2 linked regions of the Homo sapiens genome follow. The protein of the gene in region 2 purifies or fractionates together with the protein of the main gene of each other region. This does not show direct contact. Each region holds a gene or a part of one and is shown on either strand. Other genes may lie near its edges.

Region 1 (3,809 bases), on a different chromosome or scaffold from region 2:
TCTGCAGTTCACGGCCCGCCCGTTCCCTGGCAGCTGCCTCCTCCTCCAGCTGCTCACGCAGCCCGGCTGCCTCAGCCTCCATGGCTCGCACCCGGGACCCCAAGGCCAATTTCGCCCTGGTCTCCTCCTGCAGCAGCTCCTGTAGATGGAGGAGACGGCAATGTCAGGTGTGGCTGGGAGGACAAGGAGGGGAGGGTGACGGTGGAGCCGAAGGGCAGGCAGGGTCACCTGGGCATCGTGCAGCTGGGCTTCTGTGCTGCTCAGCTCCTTGCTAAGACGGATGGTTTTGGACTCAGCCTCGTTCAGCGCCCCAGACACATTCTCCAGTTCAGCCTGCAGGGAAGGGACGGGAATGAAGCCCTCCAATCGTGGCTTCCACCCAGTGACCCCATCTGCCTCAACTCTCTACCACACTGGCAGGAATGTGAAATGTTACAGCTGCCGTGGAAAACAGTCTGGCAGATCCACAGATGCTTAAACATAGGGTTCCCACATGACCCAACAATCCCGCTCCTAGGTGCATACCCAAAAGAAATGAACGCATAGGTCTATGCAGAAACTCGTACCGGAATGTTCTCAGTGGCATTACTCACCATCGCCAAGAGGCGGGAACAGCCCCAATGTCCATCAATAAACGAATGGATAAACAAATGTGGAATATCCATACAACGGGCATTATTCGGCAATAGAAAGGTATATGGATCTATTGCGTGCTGTTGTTTTTTGGGGTTTTTTTGAGACAGAGTTTCACTCTTGTTGCCCAGGCTAGAGCGCAATGGTGCAATCTCGGCTCACTGCAACCTCCGCCTCCCAGGTGCAAGTGATTCTCCTGCCTTAGCCTCCCAAGTAGCTAGGATTACAGGCATGCGCCACCACACCCGGCTAATTTTGTATTTTTAGTAGAGACGAAGTTTCACCATGTTGGTCAGGCAGCTGGTCTTGAACTCCTGACCTCAGGTGACCCACCCGCCTCCGCTGCCAAAGTGCTGGGATTACAGGCATGAGCCACTGCACCCAGCTGGTGTTTTAAAAATTAAAAAATAAAAAAGGAATTATGCTACGAGCTGCAACACAGATGAATCTTGAAACCGTTATGTTAAGTAAAAGAAGGCAGCCACAAAGGCCACCCATATATAGTAGGATTCCATTTATATAAGATCTCCAGAATGGGAGATCAGTAAAGACAGAAAGGAGATTAGTGGTTCCCTGGGTGGGGTGGGGGAGAAGTGGGGGATGATAGCTAAAGGGTATAGGATTTTCTTTTTGGGATAATGAAAATGGTCCAAAATTAGATTATGGTGATGGCCATACCACTCTGTGAATATACCAAAATCCATTGAATTGCACATCTTAAATGAGTGAATTATTATTATTATTATTGGAGATGGAGTTTCACTCTCGCTGCCCAGGCTGGAACGCAATGGCGCGGTCTCAGCTCATCACAACCTCTGCCTCCCGGGTTCAAGTGATTCTCCTGCCTCAGCCTCTCGAGTAGCTGGGATTACAGGCATGCGCCATCACGCCCGGCTAATTTTGTGTTTTTTTTTTTTTTTTTTTAGTAGAGACAGGGTTTCTCCATGTTGGTGAGGCCGGTCTCGAACTTCTGACTTCAGGTGATCTGCCCGCCTCGGCCTCCCAAAGTACTGGGTATTATTATTATTATTTTGAGACAGGATCTCACTTTGTTGCCCAGGCTAGAGTGCAGTGGCACAATCACAGCTCATTGCAGCCTCGACCTCCCAGGCTCAAGGGATCCTCCTTCCTCAGTCCCCTGAGTAGCTGGGACTACAGGCACATGCCAGCATACCTGGCTAATTAAAATTTTTTTTTTTCTGAAGATGGGGTCTCACTATGTTGCCCAGGCTGGTCTCGAACTCCTGGGCTCAAGCAATCCTCCTGCCTTGGCCTCCCAAGTGCTAGAATTACAGACATGAGCCACTGTGCCCAGACTTGTACATGATTATGTTGGAAGAGCCAAACGAGACAATTGGTTTGATATGGACCAAATAGAAGCCCAGAGAGGGCAGGCATGTCACCAAGGTCACACAGCAGAAACCTCTGCCCTGCCCACCCCACTTACCTGGGCTCGCTGCAGCTTCTCAGCAGCCTCCGCTCGTGCCCTCTCCCCATCACCAGCCCGGCCCTGCACCTCCTGCAGCTGTAACTCCAGGCGGCGCCTCCGCTGCTCACCCTCCTGACGTGCAGTCTGCAGGCTGCTCAGTTCTGCCCGCAGCTCGGACACCTCGGCCTCCAGGGCCAGCCGGGTCTTCTCCCATGCACCTTTGCCCTGGTGTGGGAAGGAGATGAGCAAAGATCTATGAGGCCTTTCCTGGACCAGGCCAGGCACACTCCCATCTCAGGGCCTTTGCACTGGCTGTTCCCTCTGCCTGGAACACACTTCTCCCAGTGAACAAATAGCTCACCCCTCACTCCCAATTTTTTTTTTTTTTTTGAGACAGTGCTTCAGTCTTGTTGCCCAAGCTGGAGTGCAAAGGCACGATCTCTGCTCACTGCAACCTCCGCCTCCCAGGTTCAAGTGATTCTCCTGTCTCAGCCTCCCAAGTAGCTAGGATTACAGGCGCCCACCACCACGCCCGGCTAATTTTTTGTGTTTTTAGTAGAGATGGGATTTTGCCATGTTGGCCAGGCTGGTCTTGAACTCCTGACCTCAGGTGATCCACCCACCTCAGCCTCCCACAGTGCTGGGATTACAGCCATGAGCCACCACGTCTGGCCCATTTTTGTTTGTTTGTTTGTTTTTTGAGACAGAGTCTTGCTCTGTCACCCAGGCTGGAGTGGAATGGTACAATCTTGACTCACTTCAACCTCTGCTTCTTGGGTTCAAGTGATTCTCCTGCCTCAGCCTCTCAAGTAGCTGGGACTATAGGCGTGTGTGCCACCACGCCCAGCTAGTTTTTGTATTTTTAGTAGAGATGGGGTTTCACCATGTTGCCCAGGCTGGTCTCGAACTCCTGGCCTCAAGTGATCTGCCTGCCTCAGCCTCCCAAAGTTACAGGCAAGAGCCACCATGCCCGGCCACTCCCTCAGTTTTTTACCCTGATGTCACCTTCTCGCAGAATACCTCCACAGCCTCTCTACTTAAAAACTCACCCGCCTTAGAATTCTGATCCCTTTTTCCTGTTCATTATGGCCCCATAGCACTTATCACCCCAATATAAACTGAAAGTGTTTATATTGTTTACCCTCTGCCTCTCTCACTAAAAGGAAAGCTCCACAAGGGAAGGCAGTGCTGGTTGTTGGGTTCATGGCTGGTTCCCCAGCAATGCTCCTGGAACATAGTCCACACCCCATTAATGCTTGCTGAATGAAAGATGCACATGAATGCGTGAGGAAAGGGGCCCAGGGAGATGAGCTAGCCTAGAACCAGCCAGCGGTACCTCCTCCAACCCCGCGTCCTGCCCTGCCCTCCCCGTGGCCCCCCTGCCCTGTCCCCCTGCCCCAACCCACCCTCCGGGCCTGCTCCAGCTGCTCCGCCAGCTCCCCCAGGGCCTGGCCGTGGCGCTGCCTCAGCTCCTGCACTGCCGCCTCGTGGATGCGAGTCTCCTCCTCCAGAGTCTTCTTCAGCTCCGTCACCTCCTGTTCCCTCTTGGACCTTTATTGGGGGAAAGGAGAGAGGATGGGAATTTCAGAGCAGAGGAAGGCAGGGGCTTTGGGGGAGCTGGTTGTTTCTCCTTTTCATGTTTCCTTAAAATATGAGGGCCTCATGTTATGCTCCTCAGGAGATCTGGGTGGTGATGCTGTGGAAGGAGTGTGGCTTTAAGGGTGAACTCCTATTCACCTTTCAAAAC
Region 2 (3,909 bases):
ACAGCCAGGCACCAGGGAAGGACACCAGCACATTGAAAAGTGGGCTGGGCATGCTGGTTTACGCCTGTAATCCCAGCACTTTGGGAGGCTGAGGCAGAAGGATTGCTTGAGCCCAGGAATTCGAGACCAGCCTAGGCAACAGAGTGAGACCCTGTCTCTACAAAAAAGAGAAAGAAAAAAATTTTTAAGGTGAACAAAACTCAAAACACCAGAGCAGGATTCAGTGGATTCTACTTAGGGGTTAAAGCCCATCCCCAGCCCATCCCTGAATGGCTCCTAAGAAAATCACTGCCCTGGTGCACAGAACCAAAACAAATTCACAACCACCAGGGTTCACAAGACAAGGTTAAATGACATCCACTAGGCCAAAACAGAAAGGCGAAGAACAACCGACAATCAACCATGAAATGACAGTCAGCATCCTCTGCCTAAGAAGGTAGATCAGTTCCCTAGGGCTACTGCAACAAATCACCACAAATTCAGCCACTTAAACAACACACATTTATACTCCTCCGATCCTGGAAGTCAGAAGTCCAAAACTAGCCTAGAAAGCTAAGATCAACGTCTAAGCAGGGCTGGCTCCTTCTGGAGGCTCCATGGGAGAATGTTTCCTTGCCTTTTCCAGCTTCTAGAGGAGGGCTGCATTCCTTGGTTGCTGGCCCCTTCCTCCATCTTCAAAGCTTCTAACTCTGCTTCTGTCCTCACGTGGCCTTCTCTGACGGTGACTCCTCCTGCCTTTGCCTTATAAGGATGGGTGTGGTTACACCCAGATAATCTAGGATGATCTCCCATCTTAAGGTCTCTAATCACATCTTCAAAATCTCTTTTGCTATATAAGATGACATTCACAGGTTCCAGGGATTAGGATAGGGACATCTTTGGGAAATCAATATTTAGCCTCCTACAAAGGACAAAGGATTGTGTAATACATTTTATAAAGAAGTCCCTCAGAAGGTCTAAACTTGTTATATAAAGACAATTCCTACCTGGGACCCCTCATTCCAGGAGATGCCAGATAAGGTGCTGTTACTGACATGACCTTCCAAGCTTTGTTTTACAGAGCAAACCCCAATTTACACGGACCCTCCGAGCAGACGGTAGCAGATGAGGTGTCACTGCCATCCTTCCCTAATAATAACTTTGCAACTCTTCTTGCAAATTACAGTAAATTTACATATCACTGGGATGAACAGTCCTGCAGCAGTCCTCAGACTCTCCGCCCACCTTGGGTAGAAAGCACATCTGCCCAACCCTTCTCCCCCAAGCAGTAAAGGTAGGAAATAACTACCCGCCAACTAACAGTATCTCCTATCAAGATACTGTTGATGGGCCGGACGAGGTAGCTCACGCCTGTAATCCCAGCACTTTGGGAGGGCGAGGCAACTGGATCACCTGAGGCCAGGAGTTCAAGACCAGCCTGGCCAACATGGTGAAACCCCGTCTCTACTAAAAATACAAACATTAGCCGGGTACGGTGGCACACACCTGTAATTCCAGCTACTCGGAAGCGTGAGGAAGGATAATTGCTTTAGTCCGGGAGACGGAGGTTGCAGTGAGCCGAGATCACGCCACTGCACTCCAGCCTGGCCAACAGAGCGAGACTCCGTCTCGAAAAAAAAAAAAATACTGTTGATGGCTGGATGGAAACGATGTTTCTACAGAGATCTTAGCTTAATCACCTCGCCTGGGAAGCGCGGAGCCCAACACTACTGTGGATGTCCTGGCAGGGTTCGGAACAGGAGCTGCAAGCAGCCTAGGTCCCCGGAGTGACAGGAACCCTCGGACAGCGTTCTCCAAAAGGCTCCGCGCGACTAAGCGCCATAAAGTCTACCGGAGTGCAGGGCCGCGGGTGCCGGCAGAAGGCGTGGCGCACTGCGCAGAGCTGCGGGCGCCCGGGCCGGTCTCCGCCTCGCTGGAGGCCCAACCCGGCCACGTCCTCTCCTAGGGCCTGCACACCGGTCCACGCCATGGGGATACCTCGCGGCTCACTGCTCAGCACACCGGGCGCGGCGCAAAGGCGGAGGTCCTCAGCCCCGAGCAGGGCTTCCCGGCCTCTGCTACGGTGAGCACTCCAGAAGGCCGGCCTGGCCAGCCGGGCCCGCTCCGCGAAGCGGGCCGCGGCGCCGCCTGTCCTGGCCTCCCCCGGCCGCGGTTACCTGCCTCCATGATGAACCTCGCCACTCGGAAGTGCACCCTGGCTTCGGGCGCCGGCTGCCCCTCCGGGCCCCGCGCTGCAGGCCCCCCTCCGCCGCCCTCCGGGGCTTCCATGAGGCGCCGCGGCACCGGCGGAAGGAGAGGCGGCCCCGGCGCGCAGAAGCCGGCAGAACTGGAGGTGCTCGCGGCGGGCGCTGCCGCCCCACCCGGCCGCGTCCGGCCCCGCCCCGCCCCGCCCCTCGCCGCCCCGCCCCGCCCCTCGCCGCCCCGCCCCGCCCCTCGCCGCCCCGCCGCTCCTCCGCCCCGCCCCGCCCCTCAGGGCCCTCGCCCAAGGGTGAGCGCGCGCTTGCGCCACAGACGCTGCCTGGCCGCGCGCGCAGGCGCAGGCGCAGGCGCAGAGGCCGACACCACGGGGCGGCTGGTATGTGTCCACCGGCCCCTAGGCGCCTCGAGCCCCGCCCCTGGGAGACGCAGGCTCCTCCCCGCGGAGCGAGAGCCCGCGGAGCTGCTCCGAGACCCGCGGGAGGGCACCTCCGGTCACCCGAGCCGCAAATCCCCGCCGTCCGAAGGGGGTGTCGCCCCGGGCTGTCGGCCCAGCGTGGCTTAGGCCAGGTACAACCGGCAGCGCCCGCCAAGCCCTGGGCTAGGGACGCCTGCGGGAGTTCACGGGGAGGCGCCGGTGTCTGAGGTCTGAGAAGACAGCGGCCACCGGAAAAGGTGCTAATGTTTGCAGACCCCGATCCATCGACACCCCAAGGAAATGCTGTGCACAAAATTCCAAGAGGGCCTTTTCGAATAGACGCATGAACGGTGTTTGTGTCTGGATCGTCCAGCCTCCCGGGATCGATTGGGAATCTAGCTTCTGCTTGCCTTTCCAGCGCGACGCACAGTAGGAGCCTAATAAATGTTTGCTGAATGAATGCTGAATATCGAACTCAGGTATTTACCATCTCATTTTTCATTCGCGTCTTCCACAAGCAGGAAATGGTGCATCAGGCTTTAGGGACATAGAACCCCAAAGGTACTCACTCCCAAGTTAGTGACAGTCACTGGAGTCATTCTGATACATTCAGATCATTGCTACAATTTCAGACAGCTGGCAATATGGAGAGGAAAAAGCTACTGCTCCCTAAACCCTTCTGCCCAGGCGCCTTGATCTCCTGATGGTGTGGAAGTCTCCACCTCTTACCCCCACCCCACACACCCAGTCCGGCCTCATTCTCCTTCCTCAGCACTTCCTGCCTCCACCAGCCTCCCCAAGTCCTCTCTCCATCCCAGCTGGGTTAGTTTCCTGGGGCTGCTGTAACAAATGACCACAAATTGGGTTGCTAAAAACAGCAGAAGTATATCCTCTCTCAATTCTGGAGGCCAGACACCTGAAATGGAGGTGACACTAGGGCTTTGCTCCCTCAAAGGCTCTGGCAGAGGATCAGTTCTTCCTTGCTCTTCCAGCTTCTGCAGCCTGAGTTCTTCCTGGGCTTGTGGCCCCATCACTCCAATCTGTGCCTCCGTCTCTACATGGCCTTCTCCCTGTCTTCTCGTCTGTCTCTTATAAGCACACCTGTCACTGGATTAGGGCCTACCTAGATAATCCAGGAGGAGCTCATCTTGACATCCTTATTTTCATTACATCTTGCAAAGGCCCTTCTGCTAAATAAGGTCACAGTAACAGGGATTAGGACACGGACACACCTTTTGGGGGCTGGCATTCACCCCACAATACCAGCCGCCAGAGCGAGCTTTCTAAAAGGCGAG

Evidence for each region.
Region 1: the proteins of CCNQ (region 2) and MYH14 purify together in Homo sapiens (affinity purification with mass spectrometry, with the first as the bait; one large-scale study listed by BioGRID). This does not show direct contact.

What each region holds. Positions count from the first base shown.
Region 1 is NC_000019.10:50,276,561-50,280,369, reverse strand, and holds part of MYH14 (myosin-14), read right to left. Parts: intron 3,614-3,809; coding exon 3,469-3,613; intron 2,288-3,468; coding exon 2,081-2,287; intron 334-2,080; coding exon 229-333; intron 140-228; coding exon 1-139. UniProt on the Homo sapiens protein: Cellular myosin that appears to play a role in cytokinesis, cell shape, and specialized functions such as secretion and capping.
Region 2 is NC_000023.11:153,596,806-153,600,714, forward strand, and holds the start of CCNQ (cyclin-Q), read right to left. Parts: upstream 2,335-3,909; 5' UTR 2,269-2,334; coding exon 2,157-2,268; intron 1,358-2,156; exon of another isoform or gene 617-1,357; intron 1-616. UniProt on the Homo sapiens protein: Activating cyclin for the cyclin-associated kinase CDK10.